Linked DNA regions of Homo sapiens. The protein of the gene in region 1 purifies or fractionates together with the protein of each later gene. This does not show direct contact. Each region holds a gene or a part of one and is shown on either strand. Other genes may lie near its edges.

The links.
Region 2: the proteins of DPEP2 (region 1) and LRFN3 purify together in Homo sapiens (affinity purification with mass spectrometry; 3 studies listed by BioGRID and IntAct, with this or other methods). This does not show direct contact.
Region 3: the proteins of DPEP2 (region 1) and CHPF2 purify together in Homo sapiens (affinity purification with mass spectrometry; 3 studies listed by BioGRID and IntAct, with this or other methods). This does not show direct contact.
Region 4: the proteins of DPEP2 (region 1) and METTL9 purify together in Homo sapiens (affinity purification with mass spectrometry; 3 studies listed by BioGRID and IntAct, with this or other methods). This does not show direct contact.

What each region holds. Positions count from the first base shown.
Region 1 is NC_000016.10:67,996,476-68,004,167, forward strand, and holds the start of DPEP2 (dipeptidase 2 isoform 1 precursor), read right to left. Parts: upstream 3,010-7,692; 5' UTR 2,942-3,009; coding exon of another isoform or gene 2,900-2,941; exon of another isoform or gene 2,792-2,899; intron 1-2,791.
Region 2 is NC_000019.10:35,931,446-35,939,373, reverse strand, and holds the start of LRFN3 (leucine-rich repeat and fibronectin type-III domain-containing protein 3 precursor), read right to left. Parts: upstream 3,001-7,928; 5' UTR 1,819-3,000; intron 1-1,818. UniProt on the Homo sapiens protein: Cell adhesion molecule that mediates homophilic cell-cell adhesion in a Ca(2+)-independent manner. Promotes neurite outgrowth in hippocampal neurons.
Region 3 is NC_000007.14:151,227,903-151,235,496, reverse strand, and holds the start of CHPF2 (chondroitin sulfate glucuronyltransferase), read right to left. Parts: upstream 3,015-7,594; 5' UTR 2,733-3,014; coding exon of another isoform or gene 2,683-2,732; 5' UTR 1,486-2,682; coding exon 1,223-1,485; intron 450-1,222; coding exon 1-449. UniProt on the Homo sapiens protein: Transfers glucuronic acid (GlcUA) from UDP-GlcUA to N-acetylgalactosamine residues on the non-reducing end of the elongating chondroitin polymer. Has no N-acetylgalactosaminyltransferase activity.
Region 4 is NC_000016.10:21,595,007-21,602,590, reverse strand, and holds the start of METTL9 (protein-L-histidine N-pros-methyltransferase isoform 1 precursor), read right to left. Parts: upstream 3,015-7,584; 5' UTR 2,858-3,014; coding exon 2,693-2,857; intron 1-2,692. UniProt on the Homo sapiens protein: Protein-histidine N-methyltransferase that specifically catalyzes 1-methylhistidine (pros-methylhistidine) methylation of target proteins.

The DNA.
Region 1 (7,692 bases):
GGTTCAAGTGATTCTCCTGCCTCAGCCTCCCAAGTCACTGGAATTACAGGCATGTGCCACCACACCTGGCTAATTTTGTATTTTTTAGTAGAGATGGGGTTTCTCCATTTTGTTCAGGCTGGTCTTGAACTCCTGACCTCAGGTAATCCACCCACCACGGCCTCCCAAAGCGCTGGGATTATAGGTGTGAGCGACCGCACTCGGCCAACTTTTTGCATTTTTTTTTAAGCTTCTCTCCAGAGCCCGAATGTCTGACCTCCTGGGACTTGGGGTACCTGCTAGCTCAGCAGAGGCAGGCTGAGTTGAGCCAGTAAAAGTGAGCACTGTCTCTGTAGGAGATAAGCCAGACAACACAATTTTCCATGATATGCAACTTCAGTCCTCAAATGTGGCCTTGAGGGGACCATACAAAGCGAATCACAGACACACCCACACTTGTAGTTGCAGTGAGCATTATGATAACACCATAGCATTCCAGCCTGGGTGACAGGGCAAGACCCTGTCTGTAAAAAAATAGATAATGATATTATTATTATTATTATTATTATTATTATTATTATTATTATTATTTTCTGAGACAGAGTTTCATTCTTGTTGCCCAGGCTGGAGTGCAATGGTGCAATCTTGGCTCACTGCAATCTCTGCCTCCTGGGTTCAAGTGATTCTCCTGCCTCAGCCTCCCGAGTAGCTGAGATTACGGGCGCATGCCACCACTCCCGGCTAATTTTTGTATTTTTAGTAGAGATGGGGTTTTGCCATGTTGGCCAGGCTGGTCTCGAACTCCTGACCTCAGGTGATCCGCCTGCCTTGACCTCCCAAAGTGCTGGGATTACAGGCATGAGCCACCCCCGACCCTTGGCCAAATTTTTTATTTTTATATTTATTTGTTTATTTATTTTGAGATGGAATCTCGCTCTGTCGCCCAGGCTGGAGTGCAGTGGCACAATCTCGGCTCACTGCAAGCTCCGCCTCCCGGGTTCAGGCCATTCTCCTGCCGCAGCCTCCCGAGTAGCTGGGACTATAGGTGCCCGCCAACACGCCCGGCTAATTTTTTGTATTTTTAGTAGAGACGGGGTTTCACCGTGTTAGCCAGGATGGTCTTGATCTCCCGACCTCGTGATCCACTCACCTTGGCCTCCCAAAGTGCTAGGATTACAGGCATGAGCCACCGCGCCCAGCTCACATTTTTTAAAATGGAAGAAATAGGTATGGCTTTTCTGTAGGGAATGGGCTGGAGGCCAGGAGATCAGGAGGGGTAAGGAATGAAGGGGCCTGTAAGGGGGAGAAGCAGTGGGAACAGGAAGGAGACATTCCTGGGACATGTTTGGAAGTTGAACCCAGGATTTGGAGATGCTTTGAAGCAGGGTTGGTGGGAGACAGTAAGGAGGAATCAGCGGTGACACTTAAGGTCGGCTCTGGAGTCAGGCCCTGAGTTTCCCCGCCTCTGCCTTGTTTCCACTCTGCCCACTGCCAGCATCTAGCTAACTTAGACTGTAGCCTCTGACCCCAAATTATCCCTGTGCTCAGGTCTGTGCCACTGATATTGGCAGCTCCTAATGAGAGGTGACAGCGTGCTGCCAGTCCTCACAGCCCTCGCTCGCTCTCGGGGCCTCCTCTGCCTGGGCTCCCACTTTGGCGGCACTTGAAGAGCTCTTCAGCCCACCGCTGCACTGTAGGAGCCCCTTTCTGGGCTGGCCAAGGCCAGAGCCAGCTCCCTCAGCTTGCAGGGAGGTGTGGAGGGAGAGGCGCGAGTGGGAACCGGGGCTGCGAGCGGCGCTTGCGGGCCAGCTGGAGTTTCGGGTGGGCGTGGGCTTGGCGGGCCCGCACTCGGAGCGGCCCGCGGGCCCTGCTGGCCCCGGGCAATGAGGGGCTTGGCACCCGGGCCAGTGGCTGCGGAGGATGTACTGGGTCCCCCAGCAGTGCCAGCTCACAGGCGCTGCGCTCGACTTCTCACCGGGCCTTAGCTGCCTTCCCGGGGGGGCAGGGCTCGGGACCTGCAGCCCTCCATGCCTGAGCCTCCCACCCCCTCCATGGGCTCCTGTGCGGCCGGAGCCTCCCCGGTGAGCGCCGCCCCCTGCTCCACAGCGCCCAGTCCCATCGACCACCACAGGGCTGAGGAGTGCGGGCGCATGGCGCAGGACTGGCAGGCAGCTCCACCTGCATCCCTGGTGCGGGATCCACTGGGTGAAGCCAGTTGTGCTCCTGAGTCTGGTGGGGACGTGGACAATCTTTACGTCTAGCTCAGGATTGTAAATACACCAGTCGGCACTCAGTATCTAGCTCAAGGTTTGTAAACACACCAATCAGCACCCTGTGTCTAGCTCAGAGTTTGTGAATGCACCAACTGACACTCTGTATCTAGCTGCTCTGGTGGGGCCTTGGAGAACCTTTGTGTCGACACTCTGTATTTAGCTAATCTGGTGGCGACGTGGAGAACCTTTGTGTCTAGCTCAGGGATTGTAAACGCACCAATCAGCACCCTGTCAAAACAGACCACTCGGCTCTACCAATCAGCAGGATGTGGGTGGGGCCAGATAAGAGAATAAAAGCAGGCTGCCTGAGCCCGCAGTGGCTACCTGTTCTGGTCCCCTTCCACACTGTGGAAGCTTTGTTCTTTTGCTCTTTGCAGTAAATCTTGCTACTGTTCACTCTTTGGGTCCATGCTGCTTTTATGAGCTTTAACACTCACCGCGAAGGTCTGCAGCTTCACTCCTGAAGCCAGCGAGACCACAAGCCCACTGGGAGGAACAAACGACTCCAGACGCACTGCCTTAAAAGCTGTAACACTCACCACGAAGGTCTGCAGCTTCACTCCTGAGCCAACAAGACCACAAACCCACCAGAAGGAAGAAACTCCAAACATCCAAACATCAAAAGAAACAAACTCCAGACGCGCTACCTTAAGAGCTGTAACACTCACTGCGAGGGTCTGCAGCTTCATTCTAGAACTCAGTGAGACCAAGAACCCACCAATTCCGGACACACTAAGACAAGATTTCACTAGTGTGTGCTGTTTCCCCTGCAAGGGGGAGGGCACAGAGATGGCTTTGGGTGAGGTTAGGGGGAGGATAGGCCTCCTGGTTGGCTAACACTTGTTTACTTCTGGGGCATGAGTGTTCATGTGAGCCCACGATGCCTGGCCTGTTCCTCTTTTAACAAAGTCTGGTAGGACATGGTGGCTCATGCCTGTAATCCCAGTAATTTGAAGGTCGAGGTGAGAGGATCTCTTGAAGCCGGAGGTTTGAGACCAGTCTAGGCAACATAATGAGAACTCTAAGAAAAAGGAAAAAAAAAAGTGGTGCATGCCTGTGGTTCCAGGTACTTACGAGGCTGAGGTGGGAGGTTCGCCTGAGCCCAGGAGTTTAAGGTTGCAGTGAGAGACGATGGCACCACTGCTCCCTAGCCTGGGCGACAGAGTGAGACCCCATCTCTAACAAAACGAAAACAAGATCCAATGCATCCTCCTGCCTGAAGTTCTTCCGTGGCTTCTCATTGCAGAAATCTACCGAATTTCTTTCTTTGGCTTTCAACTCATGGAGAGTCTGCTCTCACCAGCCTCTCCAGTCTCAGCAAATAGCACAAACTTTCCTGTCCTCCAAAATCTGGCCACCTCAGTGATGCTACGTCCCCCCATAGAGCCTTGGCACAACCTCAGCCTCCAATTGGTAGGGCTGTTGAGGCAAGGCCAGGATAGGAAATCTTGCTACCAGGAAGGAGTAGGTGGGTGAACAGCTTTTCCCTCTACTTCCTCTTCTATGCAGTGTTTGCATAAATCAAGACCTGCAGAGGAGGCAGCAGTAGAAACAGTTTGCTCCAAGGACCAAACTTATTCTGGTGTGCAGCTCACTCGCCCCTACTCATCTCCAGTGTATTTCAAGAGTATGCAGGGAAGGAAAAAGTCAGGCTGAGTTATAGCTGCACAGGCTGCCTCCCATGCTCAGAGCGCAGAGGTGGGGTGCAGCTGGGGCTTACTCAGTATCCAGCAGTGCCCAGATGATGATCATCTGCATCCAAGCCCCTCTGGTCCTGGAGACTCATGCTTCCCTTTGATGTCGCCCTGGATCTGCTCCCATGATGTCTGATACAGACAATTCCCAAGAAACAATAGTCTTCCAAGCCAGAAAGCAGCCTGGCCACTGTAGACAAACATCCTCCAATCACCAAGCTGAAGCCACCCTTCCTGAAACGTCAAATAGCTAACATAACATTTTTCTTCCACAAAAGGAAGTCAATGTTTATGTTTCTAGGAGAAGTGCAATAACCCCAAATGCATCTTTATCTCCTGAATGCATCTAGAACCTTCTGCTCAAGCCTTACCAACCAACCCCTACCCCGCCAGCCTCTCTGTCCAACATTCCTGGGGTGCTTTTTTTTTTTTTTTTTGGAGTGCGAGGGCACGATCTCGGCTCACTGCAACCTCCACCTTCCAGGTTCAAGCGATTCTCCTGCCTCAGCCTCCCAAGTACGTGGGATTACAGGCATGCACCACCAGGCTGGCTAATTTTTGTATTTTTTTTAGTAGAGATGGGGTTTCACCATGTTGATGAGGCTGGATTGTCTCGAACTCCTGACCTCGGGTGATCCACCAGCCTTGGCCTCTGAAAGTGCTGGGATTACAGGCATGAGCCACTGCGCCCGGCCTTTTTTCTTTTCTTTTTTTTTTTTTTTTTGAGACAGGATCTTGCTCTGTTGCCCAGGCTGGAGTGCAGTGGTGCCACTTTGGCTCACTGCAACCTCCGCCTCCCAGGTTCAAGCAATTCTCCAACCTCAGCCTCCCTAGTAGCTGGGGCTACAGGCATGCACCACCATGTCCAGCAAATTTTTGTATTTTTAGTAGAGACGGGATTTCACTACATTGGCCTTGAACTCCCGGCCTCAGGTGATCCACCCGCCTTGGACTCCCAAAGTGCTGGGATTACAGGCCTGAGCCACTGTGCCTGGCCCTGGGTTGCTTTCTGATGGAGACGATTGATGACTTGGGTCCCATGTGTACCATTGAGTTCCTCTTGCAGCTGGGTTCTGCCTGATTTCAGACAGTACAGAGGATCTGGGACAGAAGGCTGCATGCTATCCCATGTCCTTGAGGTAGTGCCATCAGCCGAGGGTGGGGAGGAGGCAGGAGGGCCCTGGGGTGCAGGAGCTGGATCCAGCAAGGCCATTAAAAGTATCTCAGGGGACAAGAGATGGTGGCTCATGCCTGTAATCCTAGCACTTTGGGAGGCCAAGGCATGAGGATTGCTTGAGGCCAGGAGTTCAAGACCAGCCTGGGAAACATGGTGAGACCCCTTCTCTACAAAAAAATTTTTTAAAAAGTAGCTGGTCATGGTGGCACATGTCTGTAGTCTCAGCTACTCAGGAGGCTGAGGTGGGAGAATTGCTTGAGCCCAGAAGTTAGAGGCCACAGTGAGCTATGGTCGCTCCACTGCATTCCAGCCTCTGGGAAAGAGCAAGACCCTGTCTTAAAAATAAAATACCTTTTCCGAAACATTTTTTGTAAGATTAAAAAAAGAGAAAAGAAGGAAGGAAGGAAGGAATAAAGAAAAGAAAAGAAAAAAATTTTAAAAGGTTGGGTATGGTGGCTCACGCCTGTAATCCTAGCACTTTGGGAGACCAAGGCAGGTGAATTGCTTGAGCTCAGGAGTTCGAGAGCAGCCTGGGCAACATGATGAAGCCCCGTCTTTATAAAAAATACAAAAATTAGCCAGGTGTGGCAGTGCACACCTGTAATCCCAGCTGCTTGGGAGGCTGAAGCAGGAGAATCGCTTGAACCCGGGAGGCGGAGGTTGCAGTGAGCTGAGATCGTGCCACTGCACTCCAGCCTGGGCAACAAGAGCGAAACTCTGTCTCAAAAAAAAAAAATTTCCTTTTAGAGACAGGGTCTCACTGTGTTGTTCACTGAAACTTCAAACTCCTGGGCTCAGGCAATCCTCCTGCCTCAGCCTTCCGAGTTGCTGGTGGAATCTGTGAGAAACATGGTGACTCGGTCAATAACCATGCCCCAGGCAGTTGTGGGGGACAGCCTGTATTCCATGGCGGCAACAAAGTTTTCATCTACGGACAGGGCCTCATCATCACCTGCGGCCTTAGCCTGTTCTTCAAAAAGCTGCCACTGCTGCATAGGATCATTTAGATCAGTGTAGGCATTGCTTATCGCTTTCTTTATGACAAATAGCTTAAAGCGCTGGGTCAGACCTTTTGAGTAGTGCCATTTAGCCAAAGGGCTCATTATCTGGGGGTGATCACAGATGAATGTAGAATTGTTGCAAATCACTTCCAGGAACTCCCCCAACAAGCTTGTCAAGGAGCCTGGCTGTGGTCCTAGGTGGAGGGCACGCAATAGCATTTGCACGCAGATATTATCAAGAATTTTGCCAATTGCTTCAGTTTCAAATAGGTTATTTTCTGGCAGCTTCACCCCCAGGGCTTTCTCAAGCTCTTCTATCATGCTGATTCTCCGGAAGGGTAGGGTGAAGTCAATATTGCAGGCTTATCCCTCTGGGACATCTGGGTAGTAGGTGACCTTGTAACTACCTGTATTATGCTTCACCATCCCTGGAACCATCTTCCCCGTGATTTCCGTGAGATTGTGATAGTCTAGGCCATGTAGAACTCAGGGGTGCTGAACTCAGGATTTTACGTCAAATCAATTCCTTCATTCCAGAACTGGAATGCAATTTCATAAACCTGGTCAATGCCACCAACCACTAGCATCTTATGGTAGAGTTCTAGAGTAGTTCATGTGCAGCTTGTTGTGATAAGTGATGAAAGGCTTGGTCATAGCTCCCCTGGGATGACGTTCATTCATGGGAGTTTCAAGCTCTAGGAATCCCAGCTCATCCAAGAAACTTTTTTTTTTTTTTTGAGATGGAGTTTTCTTGTTGCTCAGGCTGGAGTATAGTGGTGCAATCTTGGCTTACTGCAACCTCCACCTCCTGGGTTCAAGTAATTCTGCTTCAGCCTCCTGAGTAGCTAGGATTATAGGCACCTGCCACCACGCCCATCTAATTTTTGTATTTTTAGTAGAGGTGGGGTTTTACCATGTCGTCCAGACTGGTCTCGAACTCCTGACCTCAGGCAATCTGCCTGCCTTGGCCTCCCAAAGTGCTGGGATTACAGGCGTGAGCCACTGCACCTGGCCTAAGAAACTTATTATACATGTGATGATCTTACAGCAGATGATAAATTTCTGCCTCATTCATTCAGGATCAAGTCCAAGTATCTCTGACCATACCTTATTTCCTTGTCTTTGAGGCCAAAGTGAAGATGAGGTAACATATACAAGCAAGGCCACAGCAGTGTGATCTCATAGGGAATGAAGCTCAGCTCATCCTTCTTGGTTTTTCCCAGGATTCCTCTGAATTCCAATTATGTTTCCCCAACGCAGTTTGTTATTAATATGAATAAATTATTCTTCCTGAAATTATAATTCCTGAAATTGGCCATGACTTGCAACTTGACCCCCTCTGCTCAAAGATCATAGAAGTTCATGGCTGGGCACTGTGTCTCACGCCTATAATCCCAGCACTTTGGGAGGCCAAGGCAGGCAGGCAGATCACCTGAGGTTGGGAGTTCGAGATCAGCCTGACCAACATGGAGAAACCTCACCTCTACTAAAAATACAAAATTAGCCGGGCGTGGTGGCGCACGCCTGTAATCCCAGCTACTAGGGAGGCTGAGGCAGGAGAATTGCTT
Region 2 (7,928 bases), on another chromosome or scaffold:
GGTTCTGCAGGGGCTGGGGGTGGTCTGAGACCAGGAGAGAAGGTCACAGTGGGCTGAGGGCAGAAGGGCTGGTCAAAGACCGTCAGATGTGACCAAAAGCCAGAGGAAGGCCAGGCGCGGTGGCTCACACATGTAATCCCAGCATTTGGGGAGGCTGAGGCAGGAGGATGGCTTGAGGCCAGGAGTTCAAGACCAGCCTGGGCAACAAAGTGAGACCGTGTATCTATTATACAAAAATTTTTAAAAATTAGCTAGGCATGGTGGCGCCCACCTGTGGTCCTAGCTACATGGGACACTGAGGTGGGAGGATCAATTTGAGCCCAAGAATTTGAGGCTGCAGTGAGCTATGATTGCGCCACCACACTCCAGCCTGGGCAACAGAGCGTGACTCTGTCTCTCCAAAAGAAAAAAGTAAAGAAATGGTCAGAGAAATGACAGCTGGTCTGGGTGAGTGGCAGGAAAACCAGAGGGCTTTAGACGTGGTCAGAGATGGTAAAAGCTGGCCATGGGGAGACGGGGCAGCCAGGGTGGCAACAATGATCAGAAGTGGTCAGATATGACCAGAGAAGAGAAGGGGTTACAGATGGTCAGGAAGATGAGCAGTGGACAAAGAGAAGGGAGGGCATGGGTTGGGCTCAGATCTGGGGGAGATGACCATGTCAGAGACACGTGGTCAGAAACGGCCCAAAGCCAGCAAGGTGGTCAGAGAGGAGGAAAAGGACAGACATGGCAGAGTCAGTGGGAGCCCAGGACAGCTGCTCAGGAGGATGGTGCGGGGAGAGGTCATCGGAGAGAGGAAAGGCAGCAGAGATGTTCGAGATGATCAGAGGGCATCAGCAAGTGAGAGAGGAGAGGTGGCCAGAGATTATCAGAGGGCATCAGTGAGTGAGAGAGAGAGAAGAGGTGGCCAGAGATGATCAGAGGGCATCAGCGAGCGAGAGAAAAGAGGTGGGCAGAGATGATCAAGAGGGCATCAGTGAGTGAGAAAGAGAGAAGAGGTGGCCAGAGATGATCAAGAGGGCATCAATGAGTGAGAGAGAGAGAAGAGGTGGCCAGAGATGATCAGAGGGCATCAGTGAGTGAGAGAGAGAGGAGAGGTGGCCAGAGATGGTCAGACAGTTGCAGACTGGGAGTTAGGGTCAGGGGTGGGAGGAGGGCAAGAGCAGTGGGAGAGATGGCCAGAGAAAGGGAAAGGTGGCCAGAGGAAGCTAGAGAGGAGAGATGGACAGAGGCTGCTGGAGAGAAGAGTGGTGGACAGCAATGTCAAAGATGGATGGGGACGGTCACAGACCTAGGCTTAGATTCAGGGGTGGAGAAGGAGCAAGAGAGCTGGTGAATGATGATTAGAGAGAGGCACAGTGGACACAGATGTCAGCGATGGTCACTGAGAAGCAGCAGGCAGAGGCGACTGGAGAGAGGACCTGTGGACAGGGGTGTCACAAAGATGATCAGAGAGAGAAAAAGGGAACAGAGATGGCCATTGAGAGGACAGGTGGAGAAAGGAGCCCAGAGAGAGGAGTGGTGGACAAGAGAGGTGGCGGAGACGGTCGGACCGGATAGACAGCGAAAGGCTGTAAGGGTTGCAGGGGTCAGAGACCTGGAGGTCCCATCAACTGAGGCAGGGAAGGTCAGAGAGGGGCAAGGATGGCCAGTGTCCAGAGAGTGTTTGGAGCAGAGCAGGAGCTGAAGGCAGACCCATGGGGGAATGTCTTTTTTTCTGGAGAAACCCCAAGAGTGTCAAAGGGTACCTGGTACCGTAACCCGCAGCCACAATGCTCCTCCCAGCCCGTCCCCACCTTGAGGTTTCAGCAGCCTTACCTGAGCTAGAAGCAGCCCCAGGGAGCAGAGTCCTAGCTCCAGGGGAGTCAGAGGTCAGGGCTCTGGAGGGAGCATCTGGTCATGCTTTTCCTGTCCCCAAGGCTTCTGTAGAGGGACTGTGTCCTGACTCGGCTCAAATCTGTGGCAACGGAGTCTCCAGACCTTAATACTCGGGGTTCCAGACCCCTAAATATTGGGCCTCTAGGGTCCAGTTTTACGGGTCCAGTTTGGGTTGTTCAGGGTCAGGGTCTCCCAGGTCCAGTCTTGGGATGCTAAGCAGCCAAACGGTGGGGTTTAGAGTCTGAGATCCGATCCCGGGGTTCTGCATTCAGATATTGGGGTGCTGAGTCAAGATTGGGAGGTCTCAAGCCCCAGATTTAAGCACTCAGGTCTGCAGCAAGGACTTCAGGCCCAAACTCGGGTTCAGGCCCCTTGGAATCCCACAGTCCAGATCTTGGAATTTGAGGCCTGAATCCCAGGGTTCAGGTCCCCAAGAGTGGGTTCCAGGGTACAGTACTGGAAATCCAGTCCCAGATTTCAAGGTCCCAGGCCCAGAATTCAGAGTTCAGCTCCAGGCTTGAGGTTTTAGATGTCAAATCTTGGGGTTCTGCTCCAAATATTGGGGTCTGTGTTCCAAATTGTGGGGTTCCGGCTCCAAATATTGAGGTCCCAGTGACCGATGTTGAGATTCCAGCCCCATATACTGGGGTTCAGGCTCCAGATCTTGGGGTTCCACGGCCGGATCTCGGGGTGCTGGTCCCAGATCAGGGTTCCAGGCTCGGGTTTCCGGAATTCCCGATTCAATCTGGGGGTGCAGGCCCCCGAGGTGGAGGTTAGGGCGCGGGGTCCGGGGCGGCGGCGTCCCGGCTGGCTTCCTGGGCTGCGGCGGAGGCTGACTGGGAGGGAGGGGACCGGCTGCGGTGGGGAGGGGGGCGACCGGGCAGCCCCAGGGCCGGGTGGGGCGAGGCCTGGGAGCGGAGGGACGGTCAGACAGACTGGGACACGCGGGATGGGGGCACCGCAGCGCAGGCGGGGGCGCAGGGGGGAGGGGCCGCGCTCAGAGACCCCTCCCCCGCCGGGGCCGAGGCGGGGGCCGGGCGGGGGCCGGGCTGGGCGGGCCGGGTCCAGGCGCTCCCGCGGCCTCCTCGCCGGCAACCCAGGGCAGCGCGCGCACCGGCGCTTAAAGGCGCAGGCTCCGCGCGCACCCGCGCTTAAAGGCGTAGGCACCCGCCCCTTCTCTCAAAGACGCGCCCCGGCCCCACCTCCCATGGAGTCGCACTGGCGCTGCTGGGAAAGAGAATCCCTGGATACAGAGAGACTGAGACAGAGAGACAGAGAAGAACGGAGATACAGAAAGGCAGACAAAAAGATGGGCAGGCTTAGATTGATGGATAGAGAGGAGAAAATGGAAAGAGGCAGAGAGACAGATTGAAACACACACATATTCGAGACATGGAAATGCACAGAGACAGCGAGACACAGAGAGTGATGGAGAGACAAGAGATAAGGACAAGTCAGAGAAAGACAGAAACAGAGATAGAGACGTGCGTGCGCGCGCACACACAGACACACACATACACACTCACACGCTCTAAGACGCAGCACCTGGGCTGTGAGAATGGTATGTGTGTATGTGCATTCAGTAACTATTCCTAGCCTTGAGTGTAGCGCTTCATTCCAGAGCCACTGGCCCCCCAAACCTGTCTCTTTCTGCCCCCCTTATCTCAGCACCACCTCCCTGGAATGTCCTTTCCACGGTTGGAGTTTCCTTACCTGGCCATGCCCAGCAATAGGCTTGATCTTTCAGGCCAGAGGGGCTCCTTCCCAAGGCTCCTTTCTCTGCCTGCAAGAGGGAAAACTTGTGCCATCTGGGATTAGGGAAAGACCTCAAGACACACTGACAGCCGGGGGCGGTGGCTCACGCCTGTAATCCCGGCTCGTTGGGAGGCCAAGGCGGGCGGATCTTTTGAGATCAGGCGTTGGAGACCAGCCTGGCCAACATGGAGAAACCCCGTCTCTACTAAAAATACAAAAATTAGCCGGGTGTGGTGGCGGACGCCCGTAATCCCAGCTACTCGGGAGGCTGAGGCAAGAGAATTGCTTGAACCCGGGAGGTGGAGATTGTAGTGATCTGAGATCCAGCCATTGCACTCCAGCCTGGGTGACAGAGTGAGACTCTGTCTTTAAAAGAAAGAAAGAAAGAAAGAAAAGCAGAGAGGGATGCCTTGCCTTGCAGGAGCCAGGCCAGGTGTCCTTGCAGTGCAGCCCACCAGGATCACCCGGGGGCACCATAGATCTCCAGGTCCCAACCTCAGAGTTTCTGGTTCAGTGGGTCTGAGGTGGGACCCAAACATTTGCATTTTTAACGAGTACCCAGGTGATGCTAATGTGACTTTTCAAAGACCATACTTTTTTTTTTGAGACAGGGTCTTGCTTTGTCACCCAGTACATTGGTGCAATCATAATTGACTGCAACCTCAAATTCCTGGGCTCAAGCAATCCTCCCACCTCAGGCTCCAGAGTAACTGAGACTACAGGCATGCATCGCCATATCCAGCTAATTTTTAAAATTTCTTGTAGAGACAGGGTCTCAATATGCTGCCCAGGCTGGTCTTGAACTCTTGGCCTCAGGCAATCCTCCCTCCCAGGCCTCCCAAAGTGTTGTGATTACAGGTGTGAGCCACTACACCTGGTCAGGGACCACATTTTGAGAACAGCTGGGCTGAACCAGGGCTATCTGCACTGCACACGGAACTGTCTACCACAACAGCTATGCTAAAACCTGGTGGGTTGAGGGCATGTAGCACCGCAGATGTGTACCAAAGAGACAAATGTATTTAGAGACATAAAGAGGAATTCAGTCTATAAGGGACTTAAACAATGCAACAAGCAAAAAACAAATAACCCCATTTTATTATTATTTTATTTATTTATTTATTTTTGAGACAGAGTCTAGCTCTGTTGCCCAGGCTGGAGTGCAGTGGTGTGATCTTGGCTCACCGCAAGCTCCACCTCCCGGGTTCACGCCATTCTCCTGCCTCAGCCTCCCGAGTAGCTGGGACTAGAGGCGTCTGCCACCATGCCCAGCTAATTTTTTTGGTATTTTTATTAGAGACAGGGTTTCACCATGTTAGCCAGGATGGTCTTGATCTCCTGACCTCGTGATCTGCCCGCCTCGGCCTCCTAAAGTGCTGGGATTACAGGCGTGAGCCACAGTGTCCGGCCTATTTATTTATTTATTTTTTTAGACAGAGTCTTACTTTGTTGCCCAGGTTGTAGTGCAGTGGCATAATCTTGGCTCACTGCAACCTCTGCCTCCTTGGTTCAAGTGATTCTCCTGCCTCAGCCTCCCAAGTAGCTGGGATAACAGGCACCTACCACCATGCCTAGCTAATTTTTGTATTTTTAGTAGAGATGGGGTTTCGCCATGTTGGCAAGGCTGGTCTTGAACTCCTGACCTCAGGTGATACCCCCCACCTCGGCCTCCCAAAGTGCTGGGATTACAGGTGTGAGCCACTGCGCCCAGCCCCCATCTCTTTTTTTTTAAGACAGAGTCCTGCTCTGTCGCCCAGGCTGGAGTGCAGTGGCATGATCTCGGCTCACTGCAATCTCCACCTCCTGGGTTCAAGCTATTCTCCTGCCTCAGCCTCCCGAGTAGCTGGGATTACAGGCATGCACCACCACGCTTGGCTGATTTTTATTTTGAGACGGAGTCTCACTCTGTCACCCAGGCTGGAGTGCAGTGGCGTGATCTTTGCTCACTACAACCTCCGCCGCCCGGATTCAAGCGATTCTTCTGCCTCAGCCTCCCGAGTAGCTGGGATTACAGGCATGTGCCACCATGCCCGGCTAATTTTTGTATTTTTAGTAGAGATGGGGTTTCACCATGTTGGCAAGGCTGGTCTTGAACTCCTGACCTCAGGTGATACCCCCACCTCGGCCTCCCAAAGTGCTGGGATTACAGGTGTGAGCCACTGCGCCCAGCCCCCATCTCTTTTTTTTTTAAAGACAGAGTCCTGCTCTGTCGCCCAGGCTGGAGTGCAGTGGCATGATCTCGGCTCACTGCAACCTCCACCTCTTGGGTTCAAGCTATTCTCCTGCCTCAGCCTCCTGAGTAGCTGGGATTACAGGCATGCACCACCACGCTTGGCTGATTTTTATTTTGAGACGGAGTCTCGCTCTGTCACCCAGGCTGGAGTGCAGTGGCATGATCTTGGCTCACTACAACCTCCGCCACCCGGATTCAAGCGATTCTTCTGCCTCAGCCTCCCGAGTAGCTGGGATTACAGGCACGTGCCACCATGCCCTGCTAATTTTTGTATTTTTAGTAGAGATGGGGTTTCACCATGTAGGCCAGGCTGGTCTCAAACTCCTGACCTCAGATGATCCACCCACCCCAGCCTCCCAAAGTGCTGGGATTACAGGCGTGAGCCACTGTGCCTGGCCATTTTTAAAAAAATTTTTAGTACAGATGGGTTTTCACCATGTTGGCCAGACTGGTCTCGAACTCCTGACCTCAGTTGATCCGCCCACCTCAACCTGGGATTACAGTGCTGGGATTACAGGCATGAACCACTGTGCCCGCCCTTTTTTTTTTTTCTTTAAGAGAAATGGTCTTGCTTTGTCGCTGAGGCTGCCATGCAGTGGCATGATCATAGCTCCCTGCAGCCTCAAACTCCTGGGCTGAAGGGATCCTCCCACCTCAGCCTCTCAAGTAGCTGGGACTACAGGAGCATGCCACCATGCCAGGCTAATTGTTTTATTTTTCATGGAGACACGGGGTCTCGCTATGTTGCCCAGGTTGGTCTCAAACTCCCAGACCCAAGCAATCTTCCCGCCTCAGCCTCCCAAAGTGTTGGGATTACAGGCGTGAGCCACTGCACCCAGCTGGGACAACATTTGAAGAGAAGGTCACCTGGACATAAAGGAACAGGCCTATTTAGGCAAGAAAATAATCCCTGGATGGAGATCCCTGTGCAAATCAGGAACCTAAAGACTCCAGCTGTTGACACAAACCACTGCTGATTCAAGTGCTAATCAGAAATCTGATCCCTGTGAACAGAAACCTGTGCTGATTCATGTGCTAACTATAAATCTATGTTGATTGTCAACTTTGTCCTGAAGCAGGTCTAAGTCACAAATTTGGGCAGGAACAAGCGCTGGTAATCAGCGACTCAAAGAGATTCACATGTTAATGACCATCTTGACTTGATTCATGTGCTAATTACAATTTTAGGATAACTGAATAGGGTGATGAGATATTCCTATGAAGAAGAGCCCAGACTTGGTAGCCCGACAGCCTAGTTCAAATCCCAGCTCTGCCACTGACATGTTGAATAACTTTGAGCAAGTGATTCGCGTTTCTGGGCTTCAGCTTCACTCCTAGAAAGGAGGGCTGATAATATCTCGAATGGTGGCTGGGAGGATTGAATGGGCTAAGATACCTGAAGCGCAGGGAGCGGTAAGTGGCCTAGGAAGTGCCTACTGTGTGAGTCTTAGGTGTAACAGTAGCCTGATTATCATATGCAGCCAACAGGTGCTGCTCTGTCATTCGGTCCTCATAGCGGGCCCCACCTCCAATTTCTTCATTACTACTACCCTTTCGTGGGCCAGGTTCAGGGGACTTACCCTCTGGAAAATCTTCCCAGAGGTTTCCAGGGCGACCCTCAGCATCCCCAGCACCGTCCCCGCCCCTAACCCTACCCTTCTGGGCCCCATTCCCAAACCGGAGCATGATCACTCAGCCACCACGTGGAGGCAGCAACGCATCGCTTAGCCGCTGCGCGCGCGGCGCATTGTGGGGTGCATAGTCTCGCGAGCCGGTTGAGCGGTGGTTCCGGCCTGGCAGACGAACTACATTTCCCAGAAGACCACGCGACACCCTCTGCCTCACCTTGTTCCAATGTGGAGGCAGAGGCCACACCCACTCCTAGCGCGCCTCCGGAACGGCGCGGGGGATTGTGGGGTGTAGGGACTGGGCGCCGCGCCCGAAAAGGGCGGTGCTGCGCAGGCGCGGGAGGCCGCTGAGCCTGCCCGACGTCAGCACGTGGGTGTGGACCTAAGTCCCGGTCCAGGACCAGAAGCTGCAGCCTCCAGAGCTGCAGAGAAGG
Region 3 (7,594 bases), on another chromosome or scaffold:
GAAGCAGGAGACTCCGTGACAACAGGTAGCCAAAGCCCCCATGACAGTACCGGGCCTGCTCGCCTGCGCCAATGAACTCCTCTGCCCGGCCTAAGTACAGGTCTTGGTTGATGCTGAGGTGGCCAGCAAGGGCTGCCAGGCGGGGGGCCTGCACATATGTGTCATCCTGCATGATGAAGAACCAGTCGTAGTCGGCCCCAAAGTGTGTGTGAAGGTGGCGCAGGGTCTCTGACATGAGCCAGGCGGGCCGCTCATCCCCATGAGACACCACCTGCATCCCTGCTGGAGCCCGGGCCCCCCGCTGCCCAGTGAAGTAGAGTAACCGAGGGAAGTGATGGGCCACCGTACGGTTCACAGCCACGGCCAAAGTGGACAGTGTAGCTCGGGAGGTCAGGACAGCCACCAGCAACCGCTCACGGGAGCCCAGCTCTGTCTGGATGTACCGAGTCCTGTGGAAAGACCAGTGTGCCAGAGGTCAACTCCCTAATCTTTAGGAACCCAGCTTGTTCAGAATATACATCCCCCTCTAGGAGTGAGTTGGGGCTGAGAAGGGAGAAACTTCCTTCCTTGTCAATATTAATTAGGTACTGAACTGAGTATCCACTAAGTAGCTGACACGAATTGATTTGGGAGGGGAGGGAGTCTACCAAGGATAGATTAGGTAGGTTAGATGCAATTCCTCCTCTGTTCAAGAACATCGAACCCTGGCTGGGCACGGTAGCTCACGCCTGTAATCCCAGCACTTTGGGAGGCCGAGGCAGGTGGATCACCTGAGGTCAGGAGTTCAAGACCAGCCTGACCAACATGAAGAAACCTCATGTCTACTAAAAATACAAAATTAGCTGGGCGTGGTGGTGTGCACCTGTAATACCAGCTACTCGCAAGGCTGAGGCAGGAAAATCACTTGAACCTGGGAGGCAGAGATTGCAGTGAGCCAATATCGCACCATTGCACTCCAGCCTGGGCGACGAGAGCAAGACTCCGTCTCAAAACAAAACAAAAACAAACAAAAAACATCGAACCCTAATTTAACACCAATGAATGTGAGACTTTCTAAGACCTGAGAAGGAGGGAAAAAACAGAAAGAAACCATGATGGAAAATAAGCCAGAATTGCTCCAAGTCGCCCGACGCCGATTGCCAATGGAAAGGCAGAGGCAAGGATTTACACCAGCCCAAAACAGGGCCAGTGTCTGGGGACTATGCACACATGTTGCTCTCACCTGAGCACCTTCTTGTAGGGCTTGTTGGGGTCCCTGTAGTAGGGGACAATCCGGGGTTTGAAGTCTTCATCACTTTGGTCTAGCCGAGCTCTGGAATCTGGATTCTGTGGCCCTCCTCGCTCCCCTACAGCCTCGACACAGGGATCTTCTCCCTCCCCCTGGATCCAGGAAACCCGCAGGAGGCTCAGGCTGCACCCCAGAGACAGCCCTAAGATGAGGGGAAGCGCTGGCCGCAGCAGAGCCAACAGGGAGCTCAGTCGCATGGTGGTAGGCCCTGCCAGGTGGGTGCCCCAGGGGCACAGCCTCAAGGATCAATGGATTGATGGGCACCAGGCCAGTAGTAGGCTTTCAGTTTTAACCAGAGAACCTGGGGTCAATGAGGCCAAAGACAGAGCGAGGCCCGCTGGCTTCCAGGACCAGCATCCCCAAGAAGATTGTCCTGTCTTCACAACTCCTTCTGCCTGCTCTTCAACTGTGAAGGTGTCGGAACTAACCCCCAGCCAAAACGGTAATAAATGAAACAATCAATTTCACTCACACTGGGATTATGGTCTGTCTTCCACTAAAAAGAGGAGGAAGTAAAACTCAATACTGCCAAAGCTAACCCAAAAAGGAACACTACACACATCTGCAGACTGGGCCTAAGTCAACAGATGACAGCAAGTGATAAGAGGTAAGGGAAAAGCACACGATCCATCAAAACAACAGCCCCAACCAGAGGAGCCGGAGCCTGCCTCAGTGGGCCTTTCCGGAAGAATGCCTGCCTCTGGCATCGGTCCTCAGGCGGGCTACTGAAGGGGCTGCTGAGCCACTGCGGCAGGCCCGGTGGGCACAAGGGAAGGGGCCAGAGCCTCTTTCTACTCTGCTCCCCGTGTTTGAGAAGACGCAACGGCTACAGGAACCCCTCCTCCCACTCAGGAGCGGTCTGGAGCCACTCGCATGGCACACATAAGTTCTGCCCACCCGAATGAGGTAGATCGGTGACTCAGCACTGACAGCCTCTCAGGAGCGCCATGGCCGATGGAGCCATCTTGCAGGGCATTCTCCTCGGAACCCCAGCTGCTGAGGAGACAGCAGGCGGGGACTGGAACTCTGTGTGCGAGCGATTCGGTGCCTGGTTTTACCAGGGCCCCAGGGGCCAAATGAAGCAAACCAAAAGCAAAGAGAGAGCACAAGCAGCAACTAGAGACAATGCCAGGGTCCTGGGAACGCAAACAGAAGCGCGGCCAGCTTCCGACAGGACCCCTGCCGGGGGCCCACAGCCCCTGCGCTACCTCTCGGCGATCAGAGACCAAGTCTAGCCCTAGAACGAAGACCCGACGCGAGTCTTCGCCGTTCGTCTCAAAACAGAAATAAACTGGCCACGTCACCGGGCTGCTGAGAAGGGGGCTCGGGAGACCAGCTCGGGTCGTTCTGCGAGGCGGGGTCGGAGGTCGCGGCTGGGAGACTGGGGCACAGACCTCGTTCTCAGGCCAGTCGGCGGGAGCGGAGGCCGCGCCAGAGACAGCATCGAGGCCGCGAGCGCAGGACCAGGAGGGACGCCCAAGGCCCTCGGGGAGGAGGCCCGGGTTTCAGGGCCGGGGGCCGGCGGACACCGGATAAAGGACGGCCGGGGTCTCCCGGCGTCCCGGGAGGGGGCGGGGCGGAGGCGTGGGGACCAAGAGCGGCGTCCCGCACGCGCCTGGCAGGGAGCAGGGACGGGGAAGGGGGAACAGACCCCAGTGCCCGCTGAGGCGCCGGCTCCGCCGCTGCAGCCGCTGCCACCTCACAGCCCCTGTCCGCAGCTTCCTCTTCCGCTGCCTGTCAGTCACCCGTCTCTATGGTGACCGCATCCGGCCGCTCGCTCCGCCCGCGCGTTCTCTATGGTCGCTCCCACGGCCTCTCAGCACCGCGCACCTCCTCGGCTGGGATCCGGGCTGCCTGGCCCCAACCGGCCGCCCCCCGATAAGACGCGTTCGCCCCCACATACGCGAATCCAGGCAAATCCAGAGTGGACCAAAGCTGCCCCGTAACTTGGGCTGAACACCATCTGCCCTGGAAAAAGCATACCCCCACCCTCGAGAGCGCTTTTCTCCCAATTGGCTGTGGAATCCCATCAGCCTTTCAGTTGCCTAAGAAATGTTTGTTGTTTGCCAGGCACGTACGTTCATCTAAGGATGCTAAGTTCCGGGCATCTTCGTGAGTGCTGGGTAAACAAGCGGTGGACGAGATGGGCATGGTCCCTGCTCTCAGGGAACTGAAAGTTGAGGGAGACAGGTAATAAACACGCTTGACATAGCAAGAATAAAACAGGTAGAAATCCCAGTCTGATAAGTACCATTGCAGAAAAGCACAGAGTCCTGTGGAAAAACTAAACAAAGTATTAAATTAGACTGGGAATTTGGCAATGCTGAGATCCAAAGGTTCAGGAAAAGTTATCCAGACATGAAGTGGACAGTTTTCCAGGCAAAGAAAAGAGCACCAGAATGTCCTGAGAGAGGAAAGAGATTGGCTTGGAGAAGAACTGGGAAGGCCCAGGGCATCTTTGAGCCTGGTGAGGGGAGAACAGCCCAAGGTAAGGCTGGGGAACAGGGAACAGGTAAAGCATTCAGACCACCACAGTGGTTCCCCAACCAGAATGGCACCCTCCCTAAGGAGCAATTTGGAAATGTTCGGGGCAATTTTGTTGTCAAATGATTGGGGGAGAGGAGCCAAGGAGGCTCCATGTCTTGCACATTGCAAGATGGTATCACACAAGAAAACTGTCCTGATCCCACACAGCTTTCACATGTCCTACTGAATATTCATATAGGTTAAAAAAAAACTGGTTATAATCATCTGATGTGCCTGTGTCTTATATACAAAAAACAAAGTAATCTTGTAGGGGTGTAAAATGTGCTGAATTTTTAAGGAATGTAACCACCATGTTAACAGAAGGAAGATTATACTTTGTTGTGTTCAGGAATTTATTAGGAATTACTCACCATTTTGGAGAACTGGGTCACTGATAGCAGTGTTATTCATAGCGTTCAGTCTGCATTTGTACTGTCACATTCAAGGTGCTCCTATGCATAACTACTAGCATCTGACTAATTATGCTTTCTAGCATACTGAAAAGTATTATCTTATTATAAAGGATTTCCTTTTATTCTTTCTGCTTTGGTTCAGACACTATAATTTTTTTTGAAATTATGTATGTAGTTAGGCTATACTATCTATAAACTTCATTTCACAATAGTAAATGGGGAGTTATAAAAATGTTATTAAAATGGAACATTGGGGCTGGTAAAGTTAAGAACCACTCAAGAATATCTTGTATGTATATCTTATAGATACCATTCTAGGAGTATATAAGATAGAACTCACTGATATTGCCTACCAGCACCTGTTATCCCTGTTTTAGTCTCATCCTTAGACTGCAACTGAATCTGTTCTCATCAGCTGGCACATGATAGGTTGTAAATGACTTGTTGGAAGAGACTGGGAAACAGCAGATACACTTAGCTCAAGGTCAGAAGATTTCTAGACCAGCGCTGTCCAGTAGAAATCTAGTGCAAGCCACAAATGTGAGCCATATATGTTGTTTAAAATTTTTTAGTAACCACATTTTTTAGAGTTAAAAAAGGTAAAATTAATTTTAATATTTTATTGTATTATTAGATATATCCCAATCATTTCAACATGGAGTCAATATGAAAAATTATTGATGAGATACTTTACATTCTTTTTTTATATGGAATATTTGAAGTCTGATGTGTATTTTACACTTAACAGCAAATCTCAATTCAGACTAGCCACATTTCAAGTGCTCCATAGCCACATATGGCCGGAGGCTACCATACTGAACACTGCAGGTCCAGATCCTTTTCAGTTACTAAGTTCCTAGGTAATTCTCCAAGAGACATTTCCTTCCTTGGGTCTCCGTTTCTTCATAATTTAAACAGAGTCTAAGCCAAATATTCTTGTTTCCAGCACTGACCTTCTGTGATTTTTTTCAAATTTAGCCAGTCCCTTTCTCCTCTCTCTTTACTCACCTCCTTTTCTCCCCCATTTTCCCATTTCTCTTTCCCTGTTTCTTCTCCCCTCATCCCGAGTTCTTTTCTCTGGCTAAACCCAGGGCAGGGTGGGCAGGGGGAGGGATGGTGGCTCACACCTGTAATACCAGGATTTCAGAAGGTCGAGGCAGGAGGATCTCTTGAGCCCAGGAGTTTGAGACCAGCCTGGGCAACATAAGAAGACACCATCTCTATGTAAAATTTAAAAACTGTAGCCAGGTGCAGTGGCTCATGCCTGGAATTGTAATCCCAGCACTTTGGGAAGCCAAAGTGGGCAGATCGTTTGAACCCAGGAGTTCCAGACCAGCCTGGGCAACATGGCAAAACCTCATCTCTGAAAAAAAAAAACAAAAATTAGCCAGGCATGGTGGTGCTTGCCTGTAGTCCCAGCTACTTGGGAGGCCAACGTGGGAGGATCGCTTGAGCCCAGGAGGTCGAGGTTGCAGTGAGCCATGATCGTGCCACTGAACTCCAGCCTAGGCAACAGAGCTGCCCAGAGCTGCTTGTCACCGTAGTTTCCTGATCTGCAAAATGGTAATAATCCTCACCTCGGAGTTTGTTGGGGGTGGGGAGTTTAATGTGATGGCATAAATGAAAAAGCATAATAAATATTGTTATCTGTAACCACACATTTTTAAACGAGGCTGGGAAAGGAGAAGCATATTTCTCCCAGGAGGCACAGGCGCTTGAATCTGTTTCTTTGTTGTGTTTTGTTTTTTGAGACAGGGTCTTGCTCTGTTGCCCAGGTAGGAGCGCAGTGGTACGATCTCAGCTTGCTGCAGCCTTGACCTTCTGGGTAACTGGGACCGCAGCGATGCGCTACCACGCCCGGCTAATTTTTGTATTTTTTTTAATAGAGATAGGACTTCGCCATGTTGCCAAGGCTGGTCTTGAACTCCTGAGCTCAAAAGATCCACCTGCCTCCACCTCCCAAAGTGCTGGGAATACAGTCATGAGCCACCACACTCAGCCAAATGAGTGCTTTTTATGTGATCCACAATCATAAATAACTTTTTTTTTTTTTTGAGATGGAGTCTCGCTCTGTTGCCCAGGCTGGAGTGCAGTGGCGTGATCTCGGCTCACTCCAAGTTCCACTTCCCAGGTTCACGACATTCTCCTGCCTCAGCCTCCCGAGTAGCTGGGACTACAGGTGCCCGCCACCATGCCTGGCTAATTTTTTGTATTTTTAGTAGAGACGGGGTTTTACCGTGTTAGCCAGGATGGTCTCGATCTCCTGACCTCGTGATCCGCTGGCCTCGGCCTCCCAAAGTGCTGGGATTACAGGCGTGAGCCACCGTGCCCGGCCCATAAATAACTCTTTTGCTTCATACAGAAGGGTTTTACAGTCATTTAACTGTATTCTTTTTGTAACTATATTCCCATTTTACAGAGGAGAACATGTACTTTGCCCAAGGCCACACAATGAAGCATAGAACTGGGGTTATGCTCTTAATTATGCTATGCCAAGTGAGGTCTCCACCTAGGTACCCCAGCAACACACGAAAGTCACTTCGTTTAGGGCACTTAATTTCATGGTGTCAAGGTCTGTTTTTTTTGTTTTTTGTTTTTTTAGAGACAGGGTCTAGTTTTGTCACCCAGTCTGGAGTGCAGTGGTTTGATTATAGCTCACTGCAGCCTTGAACTCCTGGGCTGAAATGATCCTCCCACTACGGCCTTCCAAAGTGCTTGGATTACAGGTGTGAGCCACCACACCCGGCTTGTTTACTTTTCACATGTTCCTTCTTTATTATGAGCTCCCTGAGGTCAGGGAGTGACTTTGCACCATTGCAACTCCAGCACATATATCTGAGCCTGACAGATAGTAGGCACTTCGTTGGTGGAGGATATTCTAGGAAAATGTATGTTCAAAGGCATGCAGGTGTAAAATAGCACGCTTAATCTCCGAACTATTTAAGTAGGTAAGTTCTACTGAAGTATGAGTTTGAGAAGAAAAACTAATTCTCATTGTTTGAGTCACGGACTGTGGGCGAAAAGGTGCCACATTTGGAGAATATGCTCAAAGGGAGCAATAGCTTCCTTTGCTGCCCCAAACGTCACTGATGGTGAGGCTTCTGCTGCACAGGAGCCTGGAGAAGTAACAAAGATCACAAAGGGCCTGCCTTGTACTTGAGGCTAAACATTTGGAGTTTACAATGTAGGTAATGTGAAGTCCTTGAGAGATTGTATTTATTTTTAAACCATCCAGCCCAAAATGTCATGTGAGAGATTTTAAACAGTGAGACTCAAAGGGAAAGTAACGGGCCCGGTAGCATGGCTAACTAATAATAAAACAAATCTCAGCCAAGGGGCCTTTTTATCTCGGGGCCCTTTCCACCAA
Region 4 (7,584 bases), about 46 Mb from region 1:
TATTTTCTTGGTAACCATTTAAAAATATAAAACTATTCTTATTTCATAGGCTGTAAAATAAGTCTGTGAGACCAGTCTGGCCTCCCAGCCACTTCCCTGCTCTAAGTGAAACCCTGCTTCTTGCTTGCCCAAAGTGAAACATAATCCCAGTTTTGAAGCTAGCACACCAAACCAAGTTACTAAAATGGCACTGCTACTACAGTTTTAGAGCAGCTTTAGCCCAAAGGAGCCTTGCCTCTCCAAACTATACTAACAAAATAGCCATTTTTAACGAATAAACATTGCCCAAGATCTCTCTTTTAACCACAGAATCCTCCATCATAATTCCTTAATAAAATAACCAGAAGGAACACTTTTGCTAAGTATGGTTCAATCAAATCCACAACCCTACTTTTATGCAACTCCAAAAGGCCCAGATGTGGCTGGCTATGGAACTCACACACCCAACTGAACACTTAGAAGACCTTGTATAAAACTATTAATCTGAAGGAGGAAAAACAGTTACAGTTACTTCACAAGCAACGAAGTTATAAGGCAAACCCAGGATCCTGGAATATTAAGTGGAAAACAAATTATCAACTCCAGCCACAGTGCAGAAAGGACAGTTTCCTACTTTATCTCATGGTGGTTTCTACACACCTTTCTTCTGTTCCTTTTAATCTTTATTCATGCACGATTATTTTCATAATATGAATGTATTCATGTCAAAATAATGTCTGGATTCATTATTCTAAGGAAAAGAGTTGACCCATCCCCCAAATATTCAGAAAACACCATATTAAGTCTTCACCCTAAAGAAATTATCTGCTGAATTGTTAGTGAAGGGGTACACACACACACACACACACACACACACACACAGAATATAAATACGGTATCTGAAATAAACGTATCTGAAACCAGTATTAGTTTTCATTAGAACTTAACAGATTCAGCTTTTAAAAGGTACAGTCAGAAAGTATCCTCTGCTGGGAGATATTCTGAGGCTATGTCTACAGCTGCAATTCCGCCTCCATACACATCACAGTGTTGAAATAGTGTTTCAATTTTAAAATAAGTGCAATTCTTTTATGAGCACTAAAAACCTACCAAGTGGCTGCAGTAGGGGTAATCATGATAAGTGTTATAAATACCAATAGCTAAGAGACTCAACCATAATCCCCCATCAATGGAGATAAATCGCTTTTTCTCCTATCCAGGACCTTATTTCTATCAACTGCTTAAAAATGTTAAAAATGACATTTCTAATTCATTGTCTACCCCATTGTTCCATATGTGACATTCTGGTAACTGTACAGTCAACGGTACAGTACCTTTGAGTTGTCTCTATAAGAATGAACTAGTGTAAGCAAATAATCCATAGGAATAAATGTGGTTTTGCAATTTAAGTTTACATACATTCCTAACCATATCATACAAGTGATCAATGATACTGATATTGCACCTAACAAACTGCAATGGCTGGAGGCTTTCAAAAAAATTTACAGAAATTTAGGATTCCTTTAACAATAGAAAAAAGCCCAATATACATATTACTAAAGACTAAATGCTACTTTTCTAAATTGCTCTATCTCCTTCTTAGACAATTCTCTACCCTCATTAAAACACATGAAATCAACCTGGGTGTAAATTCTCTGAACACCTGGCATAATAAAAAAGTAATGTAGGAAAATGAGAAATATATGAAAATGATGAGACACAAGATGATATAGGGAATAATTAATACTCTATGGAAAAGCAAAATGTATTATAAATGCTAGCTATGACAAGCCAACACTCTGGCAGAGTTCAAAAGCCTCTTTTCAATGAATTTAACATTAACTGCAAACTATGTTAAGGTCATATACGAAATATCTCACTTAATTCTACAGTTAACCTGTACACGTTTAAGTGGCGCAAGACTGAGCTAATGAAAAGCCTACCTACCCGGTCACAGCGTAACGCTCACGATGCATAACTAAAACTCCCTCCCGTCCCGTTCTGTTTTAAAAACCCTTCCTGTAAAACTTGCATAATCTTCCTCCTCATCACACACAATCTTTCTAGCAGGCTGACTAAATCCAAGTTTAAAGGAGATCTCTGCTAGGTAGGAGGGGAAGGTTCCGTAGGATGGGAGCGACAACCTGTCAAACCCATTTTTTAAGTGCTTAGGGAGAAATGTCACCCCAATCAGCCTGGAGAGTTCAATGGCTTGCGATGTACAGTTACATTTCTTCACGACCCTTTGTACGTTCTGGGATTCAACGAGACAACAAGAGGGGCTGGCTTTTCGTTTTGTTTCTCGGGGTAATGGATCTGGCCGGGTCTCTTCAGTCTCAGGCCTCGGTGCCAGGCGGGCGCCCCCAGCCACGCTCTGGCCCCAAAGTTCCCCAGTCCCGCTGCCGGGCGTCCGCAGTCACCGCCCGGGACCCAGGAACAATGCGGGGCTCCGGGCCGCTCACGATCGGGCCCGGGAGGCCATGCCCCGCCTGCGCTGCGGAACAAAAGGCGCTCGCGGGGCCGCGGCCGGGTGCCCGGGGCTCGCGGAGTCGACGCCCGGCGGGGAAGGCGCGGGGAAAACTTTCCAAGGGGCCGAGGCGGAGGGGCGAGGGCCGGGCCGCCCCCTCGCGGAGCCGTCCCGCACAATAGCCGGGCCCAGCGCGGGAAGGCCGGGCCGCCACGCCCCCGCCCCGGCCCCGGCCCCAGCCCGTACCTGGTGGTTCTCCTTCCTGCCGCCCGCGGCCGCCGCCGGCCCACCCGGGCCGCTAGTCATGTTCACGTACAGGGAGCGGGTGAGCGGGCTCCGCAGCGTCCACATCCTCCGCGCCAGCCACACGGACGCCAGGCTCAGGCACAGCCAGCCCGCCAGCAGTCTCATCGGGGGCCGCGGCCGCTCGCTCGGATCACCGCCGGCGCCGGGGCGAGGAGGAGGAGGCACCGCCGCCTCCGGCCACCGCCGCCACCGCCCGAGCTCGAGCCATCGCGGCCGCCTTGCCCATCCAGCCCCCTTCAGGGCAAAGGCTGGGGGTGGGGAGGAGCAGCCGGCGCGCAGCCTCGGCACCTCCCCCTTCCCTTCCGGCCGCGGAACGCCGCTGCCCCCTGCACCAGTTTCCATCCGGAGCACTTACGAGCGGCCGCGTCGCTTTCTCCCCCGGCGCCCTCCCTCCGTCCAATGAGCGGGCCGCTGGGAGGCGGGACAAAGGGAGCGCGCATCCGCCCGGAGCGCGTTCTCGTGTCCCGGCCCTGCCTTGGCCTCTAGTAAATGGCGGAGGTGGTTTTAATTTTTTTGAGGGCTGAGGAGATCACTTCCGAAGGCGGTAACTGCAGCCTCCCTGCCCCTCCAAGGTGGTGCTGGAAGGACCTCCAGTCTTTCCTCGCCTCATCCCACTCCACGGCGGGACTTTGACAGGGTTACCTCTCGACCCTCATCCCACTCCACGGCGGGACTTTGACAGGGTCGTGCAGTTAACCCCGGGGGCGCAAAGAGGGGAGTCATTCCTTTCGTGCATCCTGACACACACAGGTTCTTCCCGGAGACGAATGGTGCCAGTGATGGTTGCCCGCTCGGATGCGTAGTTTCCAGTTTACATTTAGAACCGACCTGCCAGACTCCCTCCTCTACTCTCCCCACCACCACGACCCGCCTGCCCCGTTCCCCAAGCCTGAGAAGTTGCTGGCTACGTGTTTCTATAAAGAATGAGTGAAAATTCTGCCTTTTGGGGAAGCTACCGCAGCTGGGGTACCCACAAGTAATGTTTTAGATGTATTGATGGCCCTGCCCAAGAATGAAGACCTCAAGTTAGACTCCTTGGCTGCCTTGTTTCCTTGAATTAGCACAGGGAAGTTGGACCCAACACTCTTAAGAGTGAACTCAGCTCTGGGAGCAGTGTTTAACCCGGATATTTATTTGATCATTTATAACACGAGGAGACCTAGCAACATTTCAGAACTGAAGGGTTAGTTACACTGTGTTCCTGTCTGCAGTTCTTCCTGCTATTATCCAAGCCACAATTAAGGAGTAACATTTCGTGGGAGTCCCTAACTTTAATACTTTCCTAGGTTTGTTTGGAAAGTGCTTTTAATTTAACTGCACCAGAAATAATGTAAATGTGTCTAAGTTCAAAACAAAAGAAGTAAGCCTTTTGGTTAATTCAGCGTTGCACATCAGAGATTTTCATTTATGAAACAGTGGGGTGGTGAGCCACAGATGGGGAACAAAATCATTCCTTACCCAACAGCTTTTTTTTTTTTTTTTTTTTGAAACGGAGTGGAGTCTCGCTCTGTCTCCAGGCTGGAGTGCAGTGGCTCGATCTCGGCTCACTTCAAACTCCGCCTCCCGGGTTCAAGCAATTCTTCTGCCTCAGCCTCCCGAGCAGCTGGGACTACGGGTGCGCGCCACCATGCCCAGCTAATTTTTGTGTTTTTCGTAGAGACGGGATTTCACCATGTTGGCCAGGATGGTCTCCATCTCTTGACCTCGTGATCCGCCTGCCTCGGCCTCCCAAAGTGCTGGGATTACAGGCGTGAGCCACCGCACCTGGCCCAACAGCTCTTTCATTAGCTTTTAAGAATCTCAGCTTGGCACCTTTGGCTAACAAGGATATCTTGTTGCCTAATGTAACAGGCTGTAACAACAAACAAAAAGGCACAGGGTGGGTGGGGTTCGGTATTTTGTGTTCTCTCTTTCCAATATACTCCCTGACTGCTTCCTGCCAAAACCCCGAAAAGCCCAAGCCTTACTAAATCTAGTTCAAACCTCTAGTGGTCCTGGCCCAAGTCATCAAAAAGGAACTATGGTAGCAAGTCCAATAACTGTTTATTTACTATGACACCTCTCCTTCCTGTCTCTTAGGATCAGTGTAACAGACAAAGCAACTCTGTCACAAAAGGAAGCCTTCATCTTTTTAAAGTGGGGGTGAAAGCAGCAGGAGTGCATAAAATGGCATATTTCCTTTCTGAAGACAAAGGAGACAAAAAGGTATGCCCCAGCTATAGAGTGAGACCACATAGCTGTAGCTGAGAGACTGCAAAATGTTATCAGATGAACAAGCAAGTAGATGGCTGCTGTAGTCAGAAGGATTTTGGGGTCAGTTGACTGCCACGAAGCCTAACAGCTCAAAGGAGCAGATTTTGTTTTATATCTGAGCAGCTGGCCTAGAAAAATAAATCACTCATACATTTAAAATACTCTATAATAACCACCAAACACTCAAACCCATGCTATTTACATTTAGCAGGCACAGGAAGAAACCAGAGCATCCGATGATCAAATGATTTGCCTGAAGGTAGCAGAGTAAATTCAATAGCTGACCTTTTCATAGAACTTGGTATCCCAGCTCGTGGTCTTTCGATCCATCTAAGAAGCTTTGCTGTCTCTTCTCAGAGAGCCTCCTGAATTACAAATGAGGAGAAACGAAAACAGCAAGAGTAAATATACGAAGCAGAAGTTCAGATTGCCCACTGGGGACAGCCCCCTTCCTTCATCTACTAGAATGTCACTACCGTATATTAAAACCTCAATTCTCCATAATGGAGACGGGAAGGGGCAAGATGACACAAAAAGCCAAATAGCCAATACTCGTTCTAACATGATCTTGAGATGCAGTTAGTAATATTCAAAAGATACACAAATGACCCTCTGCACCGAACTCTGCTCATTGACCCCAGGTGTCCCACTTGGGTCACAGCCCTGTACACAGGCCCAAAATTTTGGCGGGATCACTTTCCTATCTAGATCTCTAGGCAAAGGCTTTTTGTTATTGTTGTTCTTTGAAGTTACAAAGCTTGGCATTTTCATATTCTCTTTTCAATTACAAAGTATCATGTTAAGAGAATCCACAAGCAGAGAGTTTGGATCTGTACAAAACCTATTGATGATTGTTATCTCCTTGAAGAGATAATGATTTAAAAAGAACTCATATAGACCAGGCAGGGTGGCTCATGCTTGTAATCCCAGCACTTTGGGAAGCCAAGGCAGGTGGATGGCTTGAGCCCAGGAGTTCAAGGCCAGCCTGGGCAACATGGAGAAACCCCGTGTCTACAAAAAATACAAAAATAAGACAGGCGTGGTGACATGCACCTGTAGACCCATCTACTCAGGAGGCTGAGGTGGGAGGATCACCTGAGCCTGGGAGGCTGAGGCTGCAGTGAACTGAGATTGTGCCACTGCACTCCAGCTTGGGTGACCCTGTATCAAAAAATAAAAATAAAAATAACTCATATAATCACTTTTTTTTTCCCGAGATGGAGTCTTGCTCTGTTGCCCAGGCTGGAGTGCAGTGGCACGATCTCGGCTTGCTGCAACCTCTGCCTCTCGGGTTCAAGCAATTCTCCTGCCTCAGCCTCCTGAGTAGCTGGGATTATAGGCACCTGCCACCACGCCTGGCTATTTTTTGTATTTTTAGTAGAGATGGGGTTTCACCATGTTGGCCAGGCTGGTCTCAAACTCCTGACCTCGTGATCCGCCTGCTGCAGCCTCCCAAAGTGCTAGGATTACAGGCGTGAGCCACTGCACCTGGCCATAATCATGTTTTTATGGACAGATATTTTTTATGCTTCTTAATATTGTTTTGTATACCTTCAGAGAAAGATACAGCTTTTTCCCAGTATATTCAATAGAATGTGTCCTGTAGTTATTAAGCAATGAGCACCTCTAACAAAATTAGCAAATGTACTCAACAATTTGTTTAATTAATTAACGTAGGAGATCTTTATCTGAATTTAGTTGATACAACTTCAATCCTGTGCAATGATATCACTGTGGGCTCCAGTTGATGAATTCTAAGTCAAGGCAAAACTGCAGACAGCTTTGAAAAAAAAAAAATTAGTAGCCTAGGCCAGGCACCATGGCTCATGCTTGTAATCCCAGCTACTCAGGAGGCTGACACAGGAGAATCGCTTGAACCCAGGAGGCAGAGGCCGCAGTGAGCTGAGATCATGCCACTGTACTCCAGGCTGGGCAACACAGTGAAACTCCATCTCAAAAAAAAAAAAAAAAAAAAAAGCCTCAAGTAGCAGAATTGAACCAGGGGTTAGAAGATGTTAGTAGTTGGCCAGGTGCGGTGGCTCACACCTGTAATCCCAGCACTTTGGGAGATTGAGGTGGGTGGATCACAAGGTCAGGAGTTTGAGACCAGCCTGGCCAACATGGTGAAACCCGGTCTCTACTAAAAATACAAAAAAAATTAGCCAGGGGTGATGGCCTGCACCTGCAATCCCAGCTGCTCATGAGGCTGATGCAGGAGAATTGCTTGAACCTGAGAGGTGGAAGTTGCAGTGAGCTGAGATCACACCACTGCACTCCAGCCTGGGTGACAGAGTGAGACTCCATCTCAAAAAAAAGAAGACGTTAGTAGCAAATACAAGTAACATCGTGTGCTTCATTGGAGAACTCCCAGTGCTACTCATTAGCATGGTAGTTTATCATCTGCACTTTGAGCCAGACTATCTGGGTTTTAAGCTGGGCTCTATGCTTCTTGATTATGCAATTTGAGGCAAATTATTTGACCTCTACATGTCTGTTTCCTCATCTGTAAAATGGAAATAATAATAATGGTTACCTATTTCATAAGGATGCAGTGAATATCATGTTATATACTATAAATA